7 linked regions of the Homo sapiens genome follow. The protein of the gene in region 1 purifies or fractionates together with the protein of each later gene. This does not show direct contact. Each region holds a gene or a part of one and is shown in the gene's direction. Other genes may lie near its edges.

Region 1 (3,500 bases):
TAGAGGCATACCTCATGGGAGCTGGAAAACAACCAAAGCATGATTTCTGGCTCCTTCCTTAGAGCAACACAGTCTCCTGCCTCTGCTTTCCTACATGGATAACCCCAGAGGAAGTCTGGTTGGTTCAGATTTAGAGACGCGCCCTGTTCCAAGGAGTTGCAGCCATGGGTGGGAACGTCTCATGATACCTGGAGCTGGGGGATGAACGTGATTTATCAGAAGGGAGTAGGAGGGCAGAGAAGGAATGAATGGAAGTTCCAGCAAAGGAATATGTTTTTCTTCTTCTTCTTTTTATTTATTTATTTTTTTTTTTTTTGAGACAGAGACTCGCTCTGTCGCCAGGGTGGAGTCCAGTGGCGCCATCTCGGCTTACTGCAACCTCCGCCTCCCAGGTTCAAGAGATTCTCCTGTCTCTGCCTCCCGAAGAGCTGGGACTACAGGTGCGTGCCACCATGCCCGACTAATTTTTATATTTTTAGTAGAGATGGGGTTTCACCATTTTGGCCAGGCTGGCCTCCATCTCTTGACCTCGTGATCCGCCTGCCTCAGCCTCCCAAAGTGTTGGGATTATAGGCGTGAGCCACCGTGCCCGGCCATTTTCTTCTTTCTTTAAGAGATAGAGTCTAGCTCTGTCACCCAGGCTGGAGTACAGTGGTGCCATCATAGCTTGCTGCAACCTCAAACTCTTGGGCTCAAGCCGTCCTTCCCCCTTAGCCTCCAAAGTGCTGGGATTACAGATGTGAACCACCATGCCAGCCTGGAGCATTTTCGTTTGGGGGCAGGGGGCAACATAGAGAAATAGTGAAGGGTACAGGTTTTAGAGCCAGCCCAGCTATGGGTTCCAGTCTCTGATCTACCGTTTCAACAGCTTGGCCTTGAGCAAGCTCTACATTTCAATATTCTCAATGACTATGCTCAAGGTACTTCAAAAGGGGGTTGAAAAAATAGTACCGTTCTCACTAGGTTGACGAGAGTATTAAATTATAGGAGGTACAGAGTGGGAATGGAACCAAACCATTTATCAAGAGCAGTCCCTTGGGCAAATCCAGGTATGGGGAAGGCTGAGAACTTTTCTTCATGCAGTAACTGACATCTCCCTGTCACATCTCACCCCAGGCACAGCCTCCATGCAGAGAGCCAATCACTCCACAGTGACCCAATTCATCCTCGTCGGCTTCTCTGTCTTCCCCCACCTCCAGCTGATGCTCTTCCTGCTGTTCCTGCTGATGTACCTGTTCACGCTGCTGGGCAACCTGCTCATCATGGCCACCGTCTGGAGCGAGCGCAGCCTCCACACGCCCATGTACCTCTTCCTGTGCGCCCTCTCCGTCTCCGAGATCCTCTACACCGTGGCCATCATCCCGCGCATGCTGGCCGACCTGCTGTCCACCCAGCGCTCCATCGCCTTCCTGGCCTGTGCCAGTCAGATGTTCTTCTCCTTCAGCTTCGGCTTCACCCACTCCTTCCTGCTCACCGTCATGGGCTACGACCGCTACGTGGCCATCTGCCACCCCCTGCGCTACAACGTGCTCATGAGCCCGCGGGGCTGCGCCTGCCTGGTGGGCTGCTCCTGGGCTGGTGGCTTGGTCATGGGGATGGTGGTGACCTCGGCCATTTTCCACCTCGCCTTCTGTGGACACAAGGAGATCCACCATTTTGCTTGCCATGTGCCACCTCTGTTGAAGTTGGCCTGTGGAGACGATGTGCTGGTGGTGGCCAAAGGCGTGGGCTTGGTGTGTATCACGGCCCTGCTGGGCTGTTTTCTCCTCATCCTCCTCTCCTATGCCTTCATCGTGGCCGCCATCTTGAAGATCCCTTCTGCTGAAGGTCGGAACAAGGCCTTCTCCACCTGTGCCTCTCACCTCACTGTGGTGGTCGTGCACTATGGCTTTGCCTCCGTCATTTACCTGAAGCCCAAAAGTCCCCAGTCTCTGGAAGGAGACACCTTGATGGGCATCACCTACACGGTCCTCACACCCTTCCTCAGCCCCATCATCTTCAGCCTCAGGAACAAGGAGCTGAAGGTCGCCATGAAGAAGACCTTCTTCAGTAAACTCTACCCAGAAAAAAATGTAATGATGTAGGAGAAATTCACTGGGAACAACTAAATTGGATTACCGAAGGCTATTGTTAAAAATTACGTTCCGTGGTGACTCATGCCTGTAATCCCAGCACTTTGGGAGGCCGAGGCAGGCGGATCACCTGAGGTCAGGAGTTTGAGACCAGCATGGCTAACATGGCGAAACCCCATCTCTACTAAAAATACAAAAATTAGCCAGGCATGTTGGCACATGCCTGTAACCCTAGCTACTTGGGAGGCTGAGGCATAAGAATCGCTTGACCCGGTAGGTGGAGGTTGCAGTGAGCTGAGATCACACCACTGCACTCCAGCCTGGGCGACAGAGTGAGACTGTCTCAAAGAAGAAAGAAAGAAAGAAAAAAAGAAAATTACGTTCCAGCCAAGCACTGTGGCTCACACTTATAATTCCAGCACCTTGGGATGCCAAGGCAGGAGGATTGCTTGAGGCCAGGAGTTCAAGACTAGACTTGACAACATAGCAAGACTGCATATCTACAAAAACTTAGAAAAAAATAGCTTGGCATGGTGGTACATGCCTGTAGTCCCAGCTACCTGGGAGACTGAACTGGGATTACTGCCTAAGTCCAGAAGTTTGAGCTTACAGTGAACTATGACTGTGCCACTGCAGTCTAGCATGGATGACAGAGTGAGACCCTATCCCTTCCCCCCTAAAAGAAAGACAATCCATGAACATATAGTAACCTCTATTTGTCATGCTTTAAGGTTTACAAGGGACCTTGTAGACGACATACAATTATAAACACAAAGGTTAATCAGCATCAGGGATGTATTTGGAGTGGAAGTGTGTGTGAGATACTAACACAGAGAAAACCAGGTTTGATTATTTCTATCTGCTGCAAGAAACTGTGTCAGTTAGCACCAAACCTCCATCTAGACTCCTCTTGCCAAAAGCCAGGGTCATCTAATACCCCCAATAATGCAAACCAGCAATGCAAAGAGAGAGGGAAGATTTCATGCCCCACTCTCTATGAGTGCCGCACCAGGTAGCTACAACTCAGATTTTGTAAGGCTACTCCAGATTATAGCAGAGGAGAGAAAAGTACCCTAAATTTCAGCATTGCACAGATCTATGCAATAGAAGTTAGAAATAGCAATAAACAGACTCTCTTTAAACATCAAGGAAACCTTAGAATTTCAAGTGTGAGTCTTGAATAGTTGTGGAGAGACTGAGATGTCTTCATGGTTGGATCAAGGAAAAAAGTCACACTGTGAGATACCGAATGCTGTGTTAGAAGTTGACACGGCTCATGGGCCAGCCAGGAGCTCTCTGTTGAATCTGGACATTGAGTGTAGACCCCAGGATGAGTTTATCTCATGGCCAGGCGCAGTGGCTCATGCCTGTAATCCCAGCACTTTGGGAGGCCAAGGTGGGTGGATCCCCTGAGGTCAGGAGTTCAAG
Region 2 (3,500 bases), on another chromosome or scaffold:
ACATGAACATAAGACCTGCAGAGAGCCCCCGGCTGTAAACAGAAGTGACGCAGAGCCCTTCTCTCCCCGACAGGAGCATTGTCCGTGATGCCAGCCGTGCACACCTTCTCTCTCTTTGCGGGATTGGCAGTCTTCATTGACTTTCTTCTGCAGATTACCTGTTTCGTGAGTCTCTTGGGGTTAGACATTAAACGTCAAGAGGTAAGTTGGTGCCAGGATTATAGTCTATTTAATTTGAGTCTAGAATCTAGAGGAAGCAGCTAGCGGGTATAACCTTTGTTTCCCTCTGTCCCCTCAGAAAAATCGGCTAGACATCTTTTGCTGTGTCAGAGGTGCTGAAGATGGAACAAGCGTCCAGGCCTCAGAGAGCTGTTTGTTTCGCTTCTTCAAAAACTCCTATTCTCCACTTCTGCTAAAGGACTGGATGAGACCAATTGTGGTATGCGCTTATCTGTGGTTTTTCTCTTTCCTCTCACTGAAACAGATTATCACATGCCTTCTAAGAAGCCAGACAGCCTGGGAAGGAGATTCTTAAAGCTGTTAAAATGTATCTAAAAAAAAAGCAAAAGCAAATGTGGAACAGTAGATAAAATGTTTTTCCTGTGAGCTTTTATCAGTCCATATAAACAAGAGTTTTAAGTTTTTTATTTTGAAATAGTTTCAGATTCACAGAAAGTTGCAAAGAAACTTTTATTTTTCCTCTTAATAATGAGGAAATAGAAGCCAAGAGAGGTGAAGTGGTTTGCCCCAAGTCACTCAGCCCGTAAGTGGCAGAGTCAGGATTTGCACCCAGGAATTTGGACTCCTGGTGCTGTGGTCTCACCCACTGCCCTGTACTCCCTATTAGCCTGTCATTTAAGCTTTTCCATTTTAAAAAATCCTGCTTTTTGTGTGTGCTTAAGATTTTATTTCTGGTCGTAAGCTTATTTACTAAGCAGTCTCTGTCTTATGATTCATTTGTTGTTCCAGATAGCAATATTTGTGGGTGTTCTGTCATTCAGCATCGCAGTCCTGAACAAAGTAGATATTGGATTGGATCAGTCTCTTTCGATGCCAGATGTAAGATGACTTCCTTTTTTTTTTTTTTTTAACTTCTTTAGCTGATGATGAATACATTTTTCAAAACATGCACGTAGGTGTTTCAAGCAAGTGCCTGCTTCTAACTGCAAATGGTGACAGGGTTTCCAGGGTTAGGAGAACTGTCGCAGTGCACTGCTGGTGTGGGCTGTCTGGCATTCTGACTGAGCCCCTCTGGGCACAGCTGCAGAACACGAATAACTAGTCTTATGAGGTTACTTTATGAGATGCTCTCCTGATTGTGGGGCTAGCAGGAGGAGCACCCTGGGGCCCTGGGGGGAAGACTGGTGGTGTTAGGAATCATGAGTCCAGCTGGAGGCATCTCAGCCAGGAACCTCCTGGCACCCTCTTATTCTCCATGATCCTCGCCTTGCTTAGTTACTATCAGAGTGTTCACACTCTCTCCTATTCTTTTATCTTTCTTTCAGGACTCCTACATGGTGGATTATTTCAAATCCATCAGTCAGTACCTGCATGCGGGTCCGCCTGTGTACTTTGTCCTGGAGGAAGGGCACGACTACACTTCTTCCAAGGGGCAGAACATGGTGTGCGGCGGCATGGGCTGCAACAATGATTCCCTGGTGCAGCAGATATTTAACGCGGCGCAGCTGGACAACTAGTCAGTACCACCTTGTCTTGTACTTCAGAAGCAGCGGAGGAGGCTCTCAGCCAGGCAGTCAGCTCAGGCCTGAAATGTCTCACTGAAAATAGACTTTCTTGGAAAAGTTGTTTTTATGCAAAATGTATGTTAAATCTGGCTTTACCTTAAAAAACCTTTGAAAGGACTAATTTACCACCTAATACTTTGAAGGCTTTTTTCATTAAGTGCTCATGTAGTTTTTCTTTTGACTGTTAGCAGTATAAAACGTAGAAAAGGAAGTTAGGTTTTAAGAAAAAGTACTGAAACTAAAGACTTCCTCCCTGTGGAGCAGGTCAGTAACCCTGTCTGTCCTCTCTAGTACCCGAATAGGCTTCGCCCCCTCGTCCTGGATCGACGATTATTTCGACTGGGTGAAGCCACAGTCGTCTTGCTGTCGAGTGGACAATATCACTGACCAGTTCTGCAATGCTTCAGGTACCTTCTCCTTTACCAAATCTTTCCTGTTTTGCTGAAAAATTTTCAAATTATCATTTAAAAATCATTTGCATCGTGCCTCAGTTTATACCTATTTGTATATCAAAGCTGGGTCTCCCTGTGTCATCATTCCTTTCCTCAGTCATTCATTCTGAAATTGTCATGTTGTTCCTGGCTCAGACAGCCACCCTCGGGGCTGCAAGCTGAACAAGGTCCACATGTTCGGAGTGTGGTTTCCACATAAGGTTTCTCATCCTGTTCTAACTCCAGCGATTGCCTCTCAGGATTGGTATCTGGCCTTAGCTTCTCAGAGGAGGGCTTTTCTTTATCACTTTACCCTGTGGTTTTGTAGGAGCGTCGAGGTTGCCCTGGAATTTTCTTAATAAAAACATAGAAGCCCCGGGCTCTGACCAGTCAAGGCCATACTTGAAGGAGGAGATCTACTTCAGGGCAGAAAATGATGCATAGTATGCCTAAGATGAAAATGGTATTTCAGATTCATTAAACTGTGAAAGTGACATGTGGCTGAAGCTTTTAGATAAGGGGAAAGATTATCCCTCACTAGTAAGGAAAGTAATCGATAGAGAAGAAAGTAATGCCCCTCACTGTCAGTATTTTAAAATGTTTTACAAAAAATCTGGAGACCTATTCTTCTAACAGTCCTCCCTGCATGTCTCCGCCAGTGGTTGACCCTGCCTGCGTTCGCTGCAGGCCTCTGACTCCGGAAGGCAAACAGAGGCCTCAGGGGGGAGACTTCATGAGATTCCTGCCCATGTTCCTTTCGGATAACCCTAACCCCAAGTGTGGCAAAGGGTAAGTGCTGCTGCCATTGCAGATAAGCATCCACTGCAACTTTAATTTGCAGTAGAAAACTAGGAGAGGACTGGGCTAAGACAGTTGCATGGGAACGTCTCTTCTCCGCCCCACCCTGTCCTGGTCCTTTGGTGGAAGCAGGAAAACCGAAAACACCTTTTTAAGAAAATGCCTCATAGTGTTCAACTGATTCTGTCTTAGCGTGGGCATTCACATCTCATGCTCTCTCTGTGTCCTGGCCCCCTGGGCATGAGAATGAACGCAGATTCCTGTGCACATTCCAAGCGGGGCTGAGGGAGAGGACGGCCTGCTGGTAATCCAGGCCTGAAGGAACTTGGCCTGTTCACTTGTACTGATGGCAGCTGGGGCGTGATCTTAGCTTTAGTAACATTATCCCACATTAAGGTTGCGATTCTTTTAGCCTCGTCATGCTCCTTGCCAGCCCATCCATGTATAGGGTTATGGGCTATCTCACTCCCCCATCCAGCCAGGCAGCCAGTTACCCACGGAAGCCAGATATATGGCCCAAAAATAG
Region 3 (3,500 bases), on another chromosome or scaffold:
CAAATAATGTTAAAACCAGTATTTTAGGTGAACCATGGTCCCAAGAACTCTATTTAAGTAATTCCTAGTTCGGTGTCCCAGGAGCATTTGGCTTTACTGCACCTATTTTGGCCACATGTCTTTGTTTAAAAGGAAAAATTATCTTAGGTTATAATACAGCTATTTTGGGAGTACCTTAAGTTTAACATTAGATTACTAGGATTCGAAAAAATGTACCCAGATGGTAGATGCTGATGAGAATTTGACACAAGAATTCATTTGAAATTGAAGCTTTTGTAGTATTAGTCAGAAAAATTTATTGACATCTGGTTTTGAACAGCATAGTGAGTGGAGATTGAGATGATCAGTTAAAATTTAATGGATTGTGGCCGGGCACAATGGCTCACGCCTGTAATTCCAGCACTTTGGGAGGCTAAGGCAGGCATATCACCTGAGGTCGGGAGTTTGAGACGAGCCTGGCCCACGTCTACTAAAAATACAAAAATTAGCCAGGTCTGGTGGCATACGCCTGTAGTCCCAGCTACTTGGAGTCTGAGGCAACAGAATTGCTTGAACCTGGGAGGTGGAGGTTTCAGTGAGCCGAGATCCCACCATTGCTCTCCAGCCTGGGCAACAAAAGCGAAACTACATCTCAAAAAAAAAAAAAAAAAAAGAAAGAAAGAAAATTTAATGGATTATGGAGCTCTACTTCACATTAGTACACCTCGGTCTCTCTGTTTTTCTGTCTCAATTCAAGATAGAGTTCTTTGTAGCGGTATGGTTTAGAGGTGGTATGTATTTTACAAGTATGTCAGTTGGCTCTGTATATCCTGATGATACCGAAGCCAGGACCAGACCCCTACGTCAGTTATATCACTAAATATTCTGTTATTAATTTTCAGATTGGCTCCTAGTCCCAGCCAACTCATGTTTTAAATTAATATAGTTCATTGTCACACTGGACTGGAAAAACCAAATGAAATGTCTTTATTCTATGAAGATGACTTGTGTAGACTATACAGACTAGCAACAGCAGACACTTTCAGTGCGAGTTATTTTAAAAAATTGAAGATTTGACTGGCAGAAAAGTTGCTGAGATAGGGAAAAGGGATATCTATTGACAGATATATGTAGAATTAGGGAGAATTTTATGTTTTCATAAGTGTCTCAATTATTTAAGATTTAATTTGGTGTGCATGTGGAATATAATGGTAACATGGTTTGTCTGTGATTTGTCTTTTGTCTTAACAGATTATTTTTCTAACTTTAAAAAAGTATACATCACTTGAGGCCAGGAGTTTTAAACCAGTCTGGGCAACACAGGAAGACCCCATCTCTACAAAACATAAATTTTAAAAAAAGTTAGCCAGGGTCACAGTGTGCCATAATTGTGCCACTGCACTCCTGCCTGGACAACAAGAGTGAGATCCTGTCTCTCCAAAAAAAAAAAAGTATGCAAGTGATAAATATTCACTACAAAATATTTGAACATGCAGATACACAACAAAAAGGAAAAATTCCCCTGTACTCCTATTACCTAGAAATAACAGTGTTGAACTGTAAATGTCTCATTCTAGGCCTCCTTTCCATTATATGTCTGCCTTTTTAAAAAGGATTATATGATGCCTATTGTTTGGCAAGTTTAGCTTTTTTCATGTAATAATAGTACACTGTAAATATCTATTTGAGTAATGAAATTTAATTTTTTTTTTTTTAAAGACATGGTCTCTCTCATGCCCCAGGCTGGAGGGCAGTGGCACAATCTTAGCTCGCTGCAGCCACGACCTCCTGGGTTCAAGCCATCCTGCTGCCTCAGCCTCCTGAGTAGCTAGAACCACAGGTGCATGCCACCACTCCCGGGTAATTTTTGTATTTTTTGTAGAGACAGGGTTTGTTTTGCCATGTTGCCCAGGCTAGTCTTGAACTCCTAAACTCTCCTAATCTCAAGCGATCCCACCCACCTAGGCCTCCCAGAGTGCTAGGATTACAGGTGTGAGCCACCATGCCTGGCTGAAATTTAATGTATATTTTTTTTGACACAGAGTTTCACTCTGTTGCCCAGGCTGGAGTGCAGTGGCACCATCTCAGCTCACTGCAACCTCCGCCTCCCGGGTTAAAACGATTCTTGTGCCTCAGCCTCCTGAGCAGCTGGGACTATAGGAGTGTGCCACCATGCCTGGCTAATTTTTGTATTTTTAGTAGAGATTGGGTTTTGCCATGTTGGCCAGGATGGCAAAATTTAATTTTTAATGGCCGTTTAGTAGTCCTTTGTGTGATGTACTATAATTTATTTGTCTCCTATGATTGGAATTTAGGTTGTTTCTAATTTTTGCTGACACAACACTTATATGTACCCATTTTGCCTCTTTGAATATTTCCATAGAATAACTTCCTGGGAGTAGAATACTTTTCTTAAAGGATTTGTGCATTTCAAGGCTTTCAAAATACGTTGCCAAATAGCTTTCGAGAAAGGCTATTTATTTCAGTTTTTGGGTTCTTATCTTTCTAATTGGCTTTATGCTTACATTAAAATATGAAATTTTTATTTAGTTGCAGAATGAAGAAGAGTCTGGAGAACCTGAACAGGCTGCAGGTGATGCTCCTCCACCTTACAGCAGCATTTCTGCAGAGAGCGCAGGTAGGTAACAGGGCAAGGTGATCACGGAATCCTTAAAAACACTCTGTGCTTTGACATTACAGTTTAAAAAAAAAAAAGCTTCAGAAGCAGTTGGAAGAAAGGTTACAAAGCAAGTCTGGATTTTAAATAATTGAGAAGTGGATACATTTAAAAATCACCCCCAGTCTCTTACATTCATCTAAGAATGTCTTTTGGTTCAATTGTTATGTATGTACTCTTAAGGGAATGGCTGGGTTTTGTCTGCTAGAGTTAGTGGAACTCCTTTTATTTCAATTCAGCTAATCATCAAAAAATTGTGACTGTTAAAATTCTGCAGCATATTTTGACTACAAGGATGAGTCTGGGTTTCCAAAGCCCCCATCTTACAATGTAGCTACAACACTGCCCAGTTATGATGAAGCGGAGAGGACCAAGGCTGAAGCTACTATCCCTTTGGTTCCTGGGAGAGTGAGTATAATTTGCCATGTTACTTGATGGCTGCTCTGTGGGAATTAAGTTATTTTCATTATCCAATTTTGATTCGTTACTTATGATTGTATTGATTAGTGAAAGTAGAGCTAATTTTAAAAATCAGGTACATTTGCTTTTGGGATAATAAACTCATCTCTTCTTAAAAATGATGAGGTAAATTACTAGTCAGACCTGCTCATTTTTCCTTCATCTCTCCTATTACCACTACTTTTTCAAGTCTCCTGGGATGGCTGAAGTATCTTGAAGCAGAAGCACACTAATGTTTCCTTGATTCTGCACACTTAATATTTTGCTGTTGGGTGGATAGCTGCTAGGGAGGTCTAGGAAGAGAATAAATATATGCAAATTTGTAGAATTAAACTCATAAGAGGGATCTTCACATTGATTTAGATGAACTCCGTTCTTCCAGCAG
Region 4 (3,500 bases), on another chromosome or scaffold:
CTCTGGGATCTACAAGGCAGCTTTCCCACTCCATGATGTAAGTTAAAAGGCAAAAATGAACTAAAAGGCCTTCTGTATACTCTGGTGTTGACAATAGCAAAGGGCTAACTTTCCTGACTGTAAGTTTCTTCCTCAGTAAAATGAAGGGAACATACTGCAAGATTACAAGCTCATTTAGGGTAAGAACTAGGTCTTTTGTTCACAGATGGATCCCAGTTATAAAGATACTCAGTTTTAAAGGAGCGAATGAATGAATGGACAGGACCTCTCTCACAGTTAATGTGTAAAGCAGTATAGATTAGCAGTTAATCTGTGTTAGCATTTCTGAGACCAAAATGCCTGCCCTGCCACTTTCTAGCTGGATGACCTTGTGAAAGTCATTTAGCCTTTCTTCCTCCATTTCCTCATCAATAAGCTGGGGATAAATTATTACCTACCTCCTAGAGTTGTTAAGAGGATTAAATTAATCCATTAAATTAATCCAAATGTTAGTCCCTAGCATATAATAAATACTATTATAAGTGTTAGCTGTTTTCATAATTACTAACAGATGTTATTATCAACCAGAAAAGATTAGTTCTTTGTCAGCAAAATACATGTTAGACCTTCTCATTTATCATTTTCTGCAACATAGACTTTTCTTCCTCATTTGGAATACGATTTTCAAACTGTCCCCTGGAATATCCCTGGGCTTTTAAAAAGGCATCTGTCAGGGTTGTTGTGACAATGGCAGTACCCCAGATGGTTGACATTTTTTTAAGGACTACATTCTGAGACCACAGCAACCCCTCAAATTCAAGAGTACTTCTCTAGCCGAGAACATCTCTCGTGAAATGAAATTTTTAAAATGTGACCACTGTAAATGCAGGGACATTATAACTAAAGCTGTTTAAACTCTGTCATTGAAATAAATTAAATACTATATTATATTGCATTATTACTTTGTTATATTCACTATCAATTTATCTGACTGTGTAAGACCAAAGAAAGTAAAGACTGAGATTGGTAATTGCTACTGTGTAGTACATGTATTTGTGGATAGAGACGATATTGAAATGTACTGAATAACATAATAAAACTAGGACACTAAACAGCAGCTTGATACACATGGAAAAGTAGAGAACAGGGAGCTGGGTGAGGTAAATACTGATCCTAAGAGACCCAATGTAGCCATCCAGCCTGAGAGTCCATGTGTTTTACTTTTGTGCCCCACTGAATTTAGCTAATTGCGAATAACAGGACATGAATTTTGAGGCCACTTGCAAATAGCTGTCACGAATATTAATTTGGGATGCCAGGGTTCTCTAACAGTTGACATTTGCTTTTGGCCATGTCTTTTCCACTAAAGCCTCTTCTAATTGCAGTGGTCCTGTATTCAGGCTAACAAATGGTCCCATGTGGTATTTGAGAGGGAGGTGTGTGAAGGTCAGGGCCTGTGCCCTGATTTGGCTGGGTGGTAATCTGGTTCTAGTGCCAGAAGAAGAAAAATGAGTCAGAAAAAAAGGCAACTGGATTTAAGCAGGAAGTTTTGTTTCTTGAATAAGCTAAGTGTGTAACATGATACCCAGCTTTATTGTTTGTTTTCTGTATGTTATCACAGAATAACTGCTGAACTGGGGGCAAAGAAGCCTAGGTTTTAGAATTGACCCTGCTGCTAACCAGCCAAGGCCTTGGTTTCCCCATTGTCCAAGGAGAGGGGTGGGTTATCACGTGTTCCTCTGGTGTGGTGATTTGGGCACTTGGGTGGCCCAATTTTTCATTGTGTAGGACTGCCCCACTTAAAGCATTTTAAGCATCTCTGGGGCCCTCACAGAGTCCCTGCAGTGCTCCCCAGGATTGTAACACCCAATCGTTCATCCCTGCCCACATTCATAAATGACCCCCAAGGAGGGTAGTACCATGCCTGGTTAAGAATCACTAAAAATTAGATGGTATTTCCACCCTTTCCAGAAGGTGAGGACCCCTTGTTCACAATTGACTATCAAGTATTTGTATCACATTTAAGAAGCAGATTTGTGAAAACACGATGATTATGGTGCTTACATGTTCCCTTCTGCGTCACAGTGCAAATTCCGCCGTCAGTCAGAGGATCCCAGCTGCCCTAATGAACGGTACCTTCTGTACAGAGAATGGGCTCATCCTCGAAGCATATACAAAAAGCAGCCCTTGGATCTTATCAGGTGAGGGGTTGTAGGGAGTACTCCAGGGGGAGGCACTCAGGGTGTTACCCCCACAGCATCTGAATGTGACAGTACTCATCAAGACTCTTGCCAGTGAAGGGAGCTGACCCAGAGTGCTGAGCTTCGTTGGCCAGGGTTTTTATTGAGGCTTAATTATGTGGGCATGATTAATTGAATCATTACCCATCTCCAGTATCATCCTCCCCCTGGAAGATGGCCAGTAATATGTGGCTCAAAGCTCCAGTTCTCCAATCACATGGTTGATCTTCTGGCATGGCCAGCCTCCACCCTGAGTCATCTCATTAGCACAAACTCTCTAGAGGTCCACCATGAGCCACTTCACTGGCATAAACTATCAGGCGTAGTCCTAGGGTCCCACTGTGAATAAAAAGGCACTCCTATCTCTCAGGAAGTTCCAAGGGTTTAGAGGTTACCCACCGCCCAGGAACTGGGATGCAGACCCACCAAATTCCATATTGCACAGAAGTAAATGTTAGATGTAGTTTCTATTGTATGGTAAGACATGTACATTTTCACTCTTTTCTTATGTCTGCCTCTAGGTTCTATTTCGTTGTATCTCACAAGATACAATGACTAGCTCAAGAGTTTTTCTTCCCAAGGTACCCTGTTGGTTTTCCTCCAGAAGCTTACGTTGTTTGGGCAGGGCTGAGGATTCTGGCTTGTGGGAGATAGACCAAGAACACCCAAACAAGCCAATAAAACATGAAAATAAATAAACAGAATTTCTAATGGAAGTGAAGAAAATAACAGAGCAATAGGATGGGAGGGCAGAGTGGGAAGTGAGTTGAGGGAGTTATCTTTGAGGAGGTGACTTTTAAGCTGAGATCGGATAGTGAAGAGGAGCCAGTGCTTTGAGGACTTGGCAGAAGTCCTTCTAGGAATAGGGGCAGCTTGTACAGTGGCCCTGAGATGCACACACATTTGGCAAGTTTGAGGAAACATCAGAGACCAGTGCTAGTGAGAAACAGAGCAAGACATGAAGTTAGAGGGGTGGCAGGAGCGCCGAAAAGAGTTTAGACTTTAATTGCAGTGAGAAGCAGTTGTAATATTTTAAATGTTTAAGTCATTGTATCCTATTCACGTTTTGCAGATAATGTGGAGAATGGATTATAAGGGGTACAGGGAGCAGGGAGACCACTAGGTAGGAGGCTGTTTGAGCCAGGCAGAAGACTGTGGGAGCAGATTTGGGATGTGTTTGGGGAGTCGGGTCGACAGGACTTGTTTATGGATTGGATGTGGAGAGTGACGAGGAGAGGAGAGTTAACTTCATGTCTGTCTGGAGCCACGTACCTGTTTTTT
Region 5 (3,500 bases), on another chromosome or scaffold:
TATGAACACTATACAAGCACATATATTATGAATAGTTGTACAGCAGATGACAGGAAGAGATGGACTTAAATTACAAGGGGAGGAACCTTAAGAAGGGTTCTGTGGAGAACTCAGTTCTGAGGGCAGTCATTTTGTCAATGAAATAAGTATAGAACATAACTTTTTACAATGTTTTAAGTGTATTTCAGGCAAGAAGCAAAGGGTGGAGCAAAAGCTGGATTTCCAATACCTTTTTGCCAAAGTTAAATGCTTTCTGCTAAGCTATCAATAAAGATTGCTTTAGAAATCAGATTGTCTTTGGTAGAGGCAAGAATGTATTAAAAGATTGGTGAATTTCAGAGCAGATTTGGAAAAATTGAGCTTTTATCTTTTTTTTTTATTGTGTAGCTTTACAGAAGATATAACTTTAGTAGGTCCCAAAACTTCAAAGTAAATAAAACTGACAAAAGAGTTTTCTAGTTTTCCTCTTAAATAGTTAATAACTCATTTACTTGCTGGTATCAGTTTGGTGAAGATGTGAAATTGTTTTATGCTCATGTTTTGTCATTGAGTGAGACTAACTTGATACCTACCTTTAATTCACTTACATTTCAGTTTTTAGAGAAATTAAAAATGATGCCAATCTTTTAATATTAGGATTAAATGGAGCACAATAGGATGTTTAGTAGTTGGAATTTACTTTTTCAAATATAAGTGAGTAAACCTTTCATAATCTGACTTAATTTCATTAATAGTTAAGGCATCTTTTTACATATATTGGAGAAAACATAAGAATAATCTTTGTATCTGATATATTTTGAAGTAGAATTGTTTCGTGAAATTATTATTGCTTGTGAAAGTTTTGCTAAGAGAATACAGAACACCTATACAAAAAATGCCATGATTAATTCTCAAAATCATTGTGTGAGGTAGGTATTATTAGAAGAAACTGAAGCTTTGAGAATAGTAGTTTTGCCTAAGGTTCATGTCTGTCTACTGCTGTGCTCTTCGTGTAGAGGCCCATTATTTTTTTTTTGTCTACATTATTGTAACAGCCACCAACTAGTCTTAGCTCTAGTCTTGTCCTGATTGAATCATATCACACTTAGCAGTAGCCAGAGTGACTTATCTAAAGTACAGATCTGATAATGTAACTTTCTTGCTTAAAACCCAACAGCAGTTCCCTGTTCTTAAAATATAAATTAAACTCAGCAGAGCTTTCATGATCTGGCTAGTTTTTTTTTTTTCACTTTTAAGTTCAGGAGTACATGTGCAGGTTTGTTATATAAGTAAACTTGTGTCATGGGGGTTTGTTGTACACAATTATTACATGGGGGTTTGTTGTACATAATTATTAATCTGTTTGTTGTACAGATTATTTCATCACCTAGTGATATGTTACATCATATCTAGTGATATCTGTACATCATATCGTATATAGTACCCAGTAGTTATTTTTTCTGATCCTCTCCTTTGTCCCACCCGCCACCTTCTGACAGGCCCCAGTATGTGTTGTTCCCCTTCCTCTATGTGTCCATGTGTTCTCATCATTTAGCTCCCACTTATAAGTGAGAACATGCAGCATTTGGTTTTCTGTTCCTGCATTTGTTTGCTAAGGATAATGGCCCCCACCTCCATCCAAGTTCCTGTAAAGGACATGTTCTTGTTCTTTTTTATGACTACATAGTATTCTATGGTATATGTGTACCACGTTTTCTTTATCCAGTCTGTCATTGATGGGCATTTAGGTTAATTCCATGTCTTTGTTATTGTGAATCAGTGCTACAAGGAACATAACACATGCATGTGTCTTTATAATAGAACAATTTATATTCCTTTGGGTGTATTCCCAGTAATGGGATTGCTGGGTCAATGATATTTCTGTTTTTAGGTCTTTGAGGAGTCGCCACGTTGTCTTCCACAATGATTGAACTAATTACACTTCTCCCAACAGTGTACAAGCATTCCTTTTTCACCACAACCTCGCAAGCATTTGTTATTTTTTTGACCTTTTAATAATTAGCCATTCTGACTGGTGTGAGATGGTATCTCATTGTGGTTTTGATTTGCATTTCTCTGATTGGTGATGTTGAGCTATATTTCATATGATTGTTGGCTGTATGTATGTCTTTTTTTGAAAAGTGTTCATGTCCTTTACCCAGTTTTCAATGGGTTTTTTTCTTGTAAATGTGTTTTAAGTTCTTTATAGATTTAGATTAATTTTTTGTTTGTTTGTTTTGTTTTTTTTTTGAAACGGAGTCTTGCTCTGTCGCCCAGGCTGGAGTGCAGTGGCACAATCTTGGCTCTCTGCAAGCCCCGCCTCGCGGGTTCATGCCATTCTCCTGCCTCAGCCTCCCGAGTAGCTGGGACTACAAGCACCCACCACCATGCCCGGCTAATTTTTTTTTTTTTTTTTTTTTTATTTTTAGTAGAGACAGGGTTTCACTGTGTTAGTCCTGATGGTCTCAATCTCCTGACCTCGTGATCCACCTGCCTGGGCCTCCCAAAGTGCTGGGATTACAGGCGTGAGCCACCGCACCCAGCCTAGATTAGTTCTTAATAGATGCTGGATATTTTGCAAATTATGAATCTTTGTCAGATGCGTAGTTTGCAAAAATTTTCTCCCATTCTGTAGGTAGCCTATTCACTCTGTTGACCGTTTCCTTTGCTGGACAGAAGCTCGTCAGTTTAATTAGATTCCATTTGTCAATTTTTGCATTTGTTGCAATTGCTTTTGGCATCTTTATCCTGAGATCTTTGCCTATTTTTGTGTCTAGAATGGTATTGCCTAGCTTGTCTTCCAGGGTTTTTATAGTTTTGGGTTTTATATTTAAGTCTTCAATCCGTCTTGAGTTAATTTTTGTATATGGTGTAAGGAGGGGTCCAGTTTCAGTCCTCTGCATATGACTAGCCGGTTACCCCAGCACCATTTATTGAATAAGGAATCCTTTTCCTATGGCTCATTTTTGTCAAGTTTGTTGAAGATCAGTTAGTTGTAGATGTGCTGCCTTATTTCTGGGTTCTCTATTGTGTTCCATTGGTCTATGTGTCTGTTTTTGTACGAGTACCATGCAGTTTTGGTTACTGTAGACCTGTAGTGTAGTTTGAAGTTGGGTAGCATGATTTCTTCAGCTTTCTTCTGTTTGCTTAGGATTACCTCTGCTATTTGGGCTCTTTTTTGGTTCTATATGAATTTTAAAATAGTTTCTTCTAGTTCTGTGAAGAATGTCAATGGTCATTTAATAGGAATAGCATTGAATCTGTAAATTGGTTTGGGCAGTATGGCCATTTTAACAGTATTGATTCTTCTTACCCATAAACATAGAATGTTTTTTCATTTGTTTGTGTCATTTCTGATTTCTGTAAGCGTAGTTTTATAGTTCTCCTTCTAGAGATCTTTCACCTCCCTGGTTAGCTGTGTTCCTGGGTATTTTATTCTTTTTATGGCAGTTGTGAATGGAATTACATTCCTGATTTGGCTTCAGCTTGACTGTTGTTGGTGTATAGGAATGTTAGTGATA
Region 6 (3,500 bases), on another chromosome or scaffold:
TTAAAAATTGCCTTCATTATTCTAGTTGTCTTCTCACTTTAAAAAGTTCATGTTACATTTTAAAAAATCAAATTACTTTCCCAAATTTACATAAATGGAGTCTTTTTCTTCCTCATCTGACAGTGATCCTAATGGCCTAGTGTAAAAAAATATACTGATGATCCCCAAGCTTACTGAATTTCATAAACTTAAATGATCTGGGTTTTCAGGTTCAGAGAAGTTAATGATATTTCCAGTATCACTGTGGCAGCTGTTTCTAGTTTGAAGATGATTTATATGTTAAATTTTAAAGGATGATGAAATACTTCTTGTGAAAGTTTCAAAGTACTCTACAAATGATAACTCATTGTTATCCAAGTGATAACCAAATGTTTTAACACTTACTCTGACACTGCATTTGCTTGTTTGTATATGAGCCAGTGGCATTGGGCTGTCAGCACAGAGCTGGTACCCAAAGATAGCAAAATTGACAATAGCGGAGAAAGTAAGACTCTGCAGCTGGAGAATGATGCCTGGAGCAGCAGCTGAAATAAGACACACCTATCACTTGTCTTTGTGTGTTCACTTTCCCTTTAGGTCTTTAATACCTTGTTACTCAGAGTGCGCTCCAAGAAGAAGCTGCACCAGCATCACCTGGGAACTTGTTAGAAATGCAGACTCTCAGGCTCCTCCTCAGACCTCCTGAATCAATCTGCTTGTTATTCAGATCCTCAGGCAATTCCTATTCACTTCAAAGTTTGAGAACCACCATTCTAAAGAATTGATAGAGGACTTGCAGTGTTCTTTAATGACTGAGCCCTCTAGCTTTGCCATTTCACTGTCTCTAGGACAGCAAGATTTTTGGAAGTGGGGTGGGTATCATGCTTACTAGTTGGTGTATTTTCTTTTCCTTGAGGTGGGGTAGATAGAGATTAGAAGTGTAGATTCTGGAGTCAGATTGCCTGAGTTCAAATCCAAGCTCTGTCATTTCTACCAAATTTCCCCACTTATTGAGGGCAACTGTAGTGAGCAAAGATCCCCCTACCACCATACTGATCCGTATTGGATGTGGAATTGAGCTACAGTAAGCCTTTAGGGATGTGTAGGTGTGTGTCATCATCATTGTTATTATTTGGTTATGGTTTCTTGGTCCTAGCTGAACCATCAATTCGTGAAAAGTAGGTGAAGTGTGGATAACTTTTTAATTTTATCTAGTATAGAAATGCTCTTAACAAGGAATCATAGAATTTTCAGCTTTACTGAAAAAAGTCTATAACAGTTACGGTAACTCTCATTAAATTATACCATACTAAGCAATAATAGGAAATTTTTACCAGCAGTGCTTAGAGACCAGTACTGACTTTGTTTTCTACAGGGGGCAGCTGGCATTTTATGCTATGTGGGAGCCTATGTCTTCATCACTTATGATGACTATGACCACTTCTTTGAAGATGTGTACACGCTCATCCCTGCTGTAGTGATCATAGCTGTAGGAGCCCTGCTTTTCATCATTGGGCTAATTGGCTGCTGTGCCACAATCCGGGAAAGTCGCTGTGGACTTGCCACGGTAAGATGTGTTGTGAGAACATGCAGGAGTATTTAGTCTATGCTACTCTCCTTGAACATGAGACTCCTTGGCTCTTATAGTTGGAACAGAGTTAACATTTAAACTTCTAGCAATTATCTCTGATAACTTTTTTTAAATCAAGAGTGTATTTAAAGTTATTTTTTCATTTGTATATAATTTTAAACCATGTTTTCTTACAGTTTGTCATCATCCTGCTCTTGGTTTTTGTCACAGAAGTTGTTGTAGTGGTTTTGGGATATGTTTACAGAGCAAAGGTATGTTGTCTACTGTAATTCACATAATGCCTTAAAAGGTGGTTTAAGTGTTTCAAGTAAAATAGAACACATTCATTTTATCAGAGTAAACATTTTCTTTTGCCTTACTTGTTTAATCTGTATTTCAAATATCTAAAGTTAATTGGCAAATATTTACATGTCAAGACTCCTTACCTCATTTAATATAGCAGAGTGTTATATATGTATTGTTCTTGATTATAGGTATTTATAGCTGCAAATGAATAATTAGCTGAGAAGTTTGTTCAGATTTCCTCAGCACACAGATTGCCTATATGAGGGGAGGCATAATTTTCTGATTTCTGCTTTAGAAGAACCAAACTCAGAATTGCGTTTTCCATTGTCTCTTTAAAAAATGCTTTGGTCCTAAACATAGAAAAAGGTGTTGTGAGTTGTGATCCCACCTTCCACCCCTGTCCTGAGGAACAAGGGGTCCTGCCAACTTAGAACACCAAGGCAGCTGGTGCCAGCACTCCTTTCTTGCCCTTCATTCTTTTTAATCATTTCACCGTTCCTTCCTTTCTATTTTGCCTGATTTTGCTGTCTACCTGTAGTACTACTTAAGGCTAAACAGGCTGCTTTAAATTAATTAATATGGGTATAATTTTAGAGGCATGGTAAAGACATAATAGACTCATTCTCATTATAACTTAATGGTTTTGAGTCAAGGGCATAATATGCCAAGTTAATTTTCAGATCATTGATACGTAAGGTACTGTAAAGCTGTGCTAAAAAAAAAATGCAATGGATTATGTCCCTACCTATGATCTGGTTATCAATTTTATGGACTTATGATATTACTGTTGTAATTACCAGATAAGTCCAGTCCTCCGAGGGGTAAGGAGGATCTGGTACAAGCAAACTTTACTAAGTGATACTTGCTTGCCATTTTAGTAATTGGCAGCAATAAGCTATGAAGCTTGTTTCCTGTCTCCTTTTTGCAATACATTGAACAGTAGCTTTTTCATAAAGTGCCATTTCTAAGGACTGATTTTTTTAAACCTGCCGATTACTTTTGCACATTTAGCCAACTCTAAACGTTGAATAAATAAAATGGAAATAATGTTGGCATTTGTCCTAAAAGTATCTTACAGGAGCTTCAGAGTTACTTTGTTTTACCTCCTTTAGGAAAGGAAAATGAGTAACTTATTTGTAAAAGGAAGGCATCCATTTATAATTTAGGACATCTATCCCAAGCCTCAACTTTTCTCCCTTTTGAATACATTGTTAGCCTGCCATTTTGCACACAATCTTCTCTTTGAATGCTTGAATGTATGTGGTATATGTCTGAATTTTTACCTGTCACTTTTCTCCCTCCTGCCTTCATCTATATCTATATGAAGATGAAGGCAGGAAGGGAGAAAACTTTACAGGAAATTCATAGATATCTGGCAACTTGCAAACATTTCATTTAAGTATTTTAGTAGGAGCCTTGACTAATGTTACTTTTACTAGTATTTTTGAGGGACTGAATTCTTTGTTCTGATTCAGGTGGAAAATGAGGTTGATCGCAGCATTCAGAAAGTGTATAAGACCTACAATGGAACCAACCCTGATGCTGCTAGCCGGGCTATTGATTATGTACAGAGACAGGTGAGCTTTCTTGAGGCAGATTTGTTTTTGAGGACCAATCACGATTGGGTCAACATTAAACTAACTGC
Region 7 (3,500 bases), 7.9 Mb from region 1:
AGTCCCTGCCCCTGGGGCCCTAGTAACCAGAGCCAGGCTCCAGCCGGCTTTTCCGGTTAGAGGTTGGAGGTGGTGCCCAGAGTGCCCCTGGAGGGGGTGGAGGGGCCTACGCCCCGGAAGTCCTGAGCCTTGGAACGCTTTCAGGCCTGGTGGCGGTGGGAGCCGGGGCTGGCCCAGACGCTGAGTGTCTGCAGTCAGGGAGCATCGAGGCAGATGTTTTCAGGCCTTGGTGTCAGGGGTGGGAGAGGGATGCCTCGTTTTGGGGAGGGGGCCACCCGAGGAGGCTGGAGGGCGGCGGCCCTGTGGACTATCCCTCATGTGCTCTTCGAGGTCAGACAAGTCAGATCAGGTGCAGGGGTGCCCAGAGGGGAACAGTGGCCGCTTGGTTCTGGGCAGGTGGTGACGTCTGCATGGAGGGTGACTAAGGCCAGGCTAAGAGGGAAGTGGGGGCACACACTTTGGTGGTTTGGACAAGTTTGGGCAGGGAGGGTCACAGGCCTGCCTGTGTCCGGCTCCTCGGAGGACCCCCTGCAGAGCCTCCCATCCTGAGGGTCTCTCTCTACACCCCCCGTCTCGTCCCGTCCCACAGGCAGCATGATCCCAGTGGCCGAGTTCAAGCAGTTCACGGAACAGCAGCCTGCGTTCAAGGTGCTCAAACCCTGGTGGGACGTGCTGGCCGAGTACCTCACCGTGGCCATGCTCATGATTGGGGTCTTTGGCTGCACCCTCCAGGTGAGGCCCTCCCCTGGCAAGGGGGTGTGACCAGAGGGGCGGGGCAGGTGTCTGGGGAAGTCGGGAAGCCTTCTCATCACCCAAGAAAGAGAGGAAACTGAAGACAGAGCCCCACTCAAAGGCCAATCCAGACCCCTTATCTTCCTTACCTCCATAGCCAGGAGCACCGGAGTCCCCACATTGCTATGCCATTCCATATCTTTTTTTCTTTTTTGAGACGGAGTCTCACTCTGTCACCCAGGCTAGAGTACAGTGGCATGATCTCAGCTCCCTGCAACATCTGCCTCCCGGGTACAAGCGGTTCTCCTGCCTCAGCCTCCTGAGTAGCTGGGATTACAGGCGCCCACCACCACGCCTGGCTAATTTTGGTAGTTTTTTAGTAGAGATGGGGTTTCACCATGTTAGCCAGGCTGGTCTCGAACTCCTGACCTCAAGTGACCTGCCTGCCTGGGCCTCCCAAAGTGTTGGGATTACAGGCCTGAGGCACTGCACCTGACCCTTTCTTTTTTTTTCTTTTTTTTTTTTTTCTTTTTGGCTAAAAAGAGACAGGGGCCGGGCATGGTGGCTCACACCTGTAATCCCAGCACTTTGGGAGGCCAAGGTGGGAGTATCACTTAAGGCCAGAAGTTTGAGACCAGCCTGGCCAACACGGTGAAAACCCGTCCTTACTAAAGACACAAATATTAGCCAGGCATGGTGGTGGACACCTGTAATCCCAGCTACTTGGAAGGCTGAGGCAGGAAAATTGCTTGAACCTGGGAGGTGGAGGTTGCAGTGAGCCGAGATCATGCCACTGCACTCCAGCCTGGGTGACAGAACGAGACTCCATCTTAAAAAAAATAAAATAAAATAATTGAAAATTAAAATAAAGAAACACGGTCTCATTCTGTCATCCAGGTTGGAGTGCAGTGGCATGATCACAGCTCACTGCAGCCTTGAACTCCTGGACTCAAGTGATCTTCCCGCCTCAGCCTCCAGAGTAGCTGGGATTACAGGCACACACCACCACGTCCAGCTAATTTTTAAATTTCTTGTTGACACAGGGGTCTTGCTATGTTGCCCAGGCTTGTCTCGGACTCCGGGCCTCAAGCCATCCTCCCACCTCGGCCTCCCAAAGTGCTGGGATTACAGGTGTGAGCCACTGTGTCCAGCCCCATATTTTCACAATGCTCAGTTTTATCCCTAGAATCTGGAAAGGACTGCAGTTGCTATATGAGTTTGTTACTTCTGTTGTAACAAAGTAGCAGGGATTGAGTGGCTTAAATAACCAGAAATGTTTCCTCTTCTGGGTCTGGTTCTGGAGGCCAGAAGTCTGAGATCAAGGCGTCAGTTGTCAGTGAGGGAGAATCTTCCAAGCTTCCCTCCTAGATTTTTGCAGCTCCAAGAGTTCCTTGGCTTGTAGATGACATTCTCCCAGTATTTTTCTTTTTCTTTTTCTTTTTTTTTTAGACAGAGTCTCCCTCTGTCGCCCAGGCTGGCATGCAGTGGTGCGATCTCGGCTCACTGCAACCTCCGCCTCCCGGGTTCCAACAATTCTCCTGGCTTAGCCTCCCAAGTAGCTGGGATTACAGGCGTGTGCCACCACGCCCGGCTAATATTTTTTTGTATTTTTAGTAGAGACGTGGTTTCAGTATGTTGGCCAGGCTGGTCTTGAACTCCTGACCTCGTGATCAGGATCAGCCTGCCTCTGTCTCCCAAAGTGCTGGGATTACAGGCATGAGCCACTGCGCCTGGTCGAGACAGTTTTTTTTTTTTTTTTTTAAGCAAGCTCTGTCACCTAGGCTGGAGTGCAGTGGCGCAATAATAGCTCACTGTAACCTTGTACTCCTGGCCTCAAGCAATCCTCCTCTACCACCCCCGCTTGGCCCCCCCTCCCACTGCCTCCCAAATCACTGGGATTACAAGCCTGAGCCACCGCACCCAGCCTCTCCCTGTATCCTCACGTCATCTTCTGTCTTTGTGTCTGTCTCTGTGTCTATGTTTCCCCTTTCTCTAAGGCGCAGTCATACTGGGCCCACCCTACTGGCTTTGTCTTGACTACCTCTGCAAAGACCCTATTACCAAACAGGAGCCGCCTGACCCAGCTCAAATAATACCACATTCTAAGGATTCGGAGTTGGGACTTCAACATCTTTTGTGGGGACACGATTCAACCCAGCTCCTTTTCTCAGACAAAGACCAGTGCTTTGTCAGTTGTGGTGGCTCATTCCTGTAATCCCAGCACTTTGGGAAGCTGAGGCAGGGGATCACTTGAGGCCAGGAGTTCGAGAGCAGCCTGGCCAACATGGTGAAACCCCATCTCTACTAAAAATACAAAAATTAGCTAGGCGTGGTAGTGCGTGCTTGTAGCCCCGGCTACTCAGCAGGCTGAGGCAGGAGAATTGCTTGAACCAGGAGGGGAAGGTTGCAATGAGCCAAGATTGCACCACTGCACACAGCCTGACAGAGCGAGACTCTTGTCTCAAAAAAAAAAACCAAAAAAAAAAAAAACAGTGCTTAGAGGTTTAGCAAAACTCTTCCAAAATCACAGCTGGCTGGCAACAGTCAGAGATGGGGGGTGCGGGGGGTCTCCCACCTTCAGCCTGCTTTTTCCCCATCCCCCTCATTTTCTCTCTTTTTTAAATTAATTTATTTTTGAGACAGAGGCTCACTCTGTCACCCAGGCTGGAGTACAATGGCGCGATCTCGGCTCACTGCAACCTCCATCTTCCGGGTTCAAGCGATTCTCCTGCCTCAGCCTCCCGAGTAGCTGGGATTACAGGTGCCCA

What was found.
Region 2: the proteins of OR10H1 (region 1) and NPC1 purify together in Homo sapiens (affinity purification with mass spectrometry; one large-scale study listed by BioGRID and IntAct). This does not show direct contact.
Region 3: the proteins of OR10H1 (region 1) and NDFIP1 purify together in Homo sapiens (affinity purification with mass spectrometry; one large-scale study listed by BioGRID and IntAct). This does not show direct contact.
Region 4: the proteins of OR10H1 (region 1) and ANO6 purify together in Homo sapiens (affinity purification with mass spectrometry; one large-scale study listed by BioGRID and IntAct). This does not show direct contact.
Region 5: the proteins of OR10H1 (region 1) and LRP12 purify together in Homo sapiens (affinity purification with mass spectrometry; one large-scale study listed by BioGRID and IntAct). This does not show direct contact.
Region 6: the proteins of OR10H1 (region 1) and TSPAN3 purify together in Homo sapiens (affinity purification with mass spectrometry; one large-scale study listed by BioGRID and IntAct). This does not show direct contact.
Region 7: the proteins of OR10H1 (region 1) and LRRC8E purify together in Homo sapiens (affinity purification with mass spectrometry; one large-scale study listed by BioGRID and IntAct). This does not show direct contact.

What each region holds. Positions count from the first base shown.
Region 1 is NC_000019.10:15,805,665-15,809,164, reverse strand, and holds part of OR10H1 (olfactory receptor 10H1), read left to right. Parts: intron 1-323; 5' UTR 324-440; intron 441-1,116; 5' UTR 1,117-1,127; coding exon 1,128-2,084; 3' UTR 2,085-3,500. UniProt on the Homo sapiens protein: Odorant receptor.
Region 2 is NC_000018.10:23,538,007-23,541,506, reverse strand, and holds part of NPC1 (NPC intracellular cholesterol transporter 1 precursor), read left to right. Parts: intron 1-73; coding exon 74-201; intron 202-298; coding exon 299-439; intron 440-969; coding exon 970-1,059; intron 1,060-1,505; coding exon 1,506-1,696; intron 1,697-2,036; coding exon 2,037-2,152; intron 2,153-2,835; coding exon 2,836-2,965; intron 2,966-3,500. UniProt on the Homo sapiens protein: Intracellular cholesterol transporter which acts in concert with NPC2 and plays an important role in the egress of cholesterol from the endosomal/lysosomal compartment.
Region 3 is NC_000005.10:142,129,279-142,132,778, forward strand, and holds part of NDFIP1 (NEDD4 family-interacting protein 1), read left to right. Parts: intron 1-2,529; coding exon 2,530-2,617; intron 2,618-2,933; coding exon 2,934-3,064; intron 3,065-3,500. UniProt on the Homo sapiens protein: Activates HECT domain-containing E3 ubiquitin-protein ligases, including NEDD4 and ITCH, and consequently modulates the stability of their targets. As a result, controls many cellular processes.
Region 4 is NC_000012.12:45,348,595-45,352,094, forward strand, and holds part of ANO6 (anoctamin-6), read left to right. Parts: coding exon 1-37; intron 38-2,064; coding exon 2,065-2,180; intron 2,181-3,500. UniProt on the Homo sapiens protein: Small-conductance calcium-activated nonselective cation (SCAN) channel which acts as a regulator of phospholipid scrambling in platelets and osteoblasts.
Region 5 is NC_000008.11:104,579,259-104,582,758, reverse strand, and holds part of LRP12 (low-density lipoprotein receptor-related protein 12 isoform a precursor), read left to right. Parts: intron 1-3,500. UniProt on the Homo sapiens protein: Probable receptor, which may be involved in the internalization of lipophilic molecules and/or signal transduction. May act as a tumor suppressor.
Region 6 is NC_000015.10:77,054,110-77,057,609, reverse strand, and holds part of TSPAN3 (tetraspanin-3), read left to right. Parts: intron 1-1,354; coding exon 1,355-1,546; intron 1,547-1,746; coding exon 1,747-1,821; intron 1,822-3,330; coding exon 3,331-3,432; intron 3,433-3,500. UniProt on the Homo sapiens protein: Regulates the proliferation and migration of oligodendrocytes, a process essential for normal myelination and repair.
Region 7 is NC_000019.10:7,895,010-7,898,509, forward strand, and holds part of LRRC8E (volume-regulated anion channel subunit LRRC8E), read left to right. Parts: exon of another isoform or gene 1-330; intron 331-589; 5' UTR 590-594; coding exon 595-732; intron 733-3,500. UniProt on the Homo sapiens protein: Non-essential component of the volume-regulated anion channel (VRAC, also named VSOAC channel), an anion channel required to maintain a constant cell volume in response to extracellular or intracellular osmotic changes.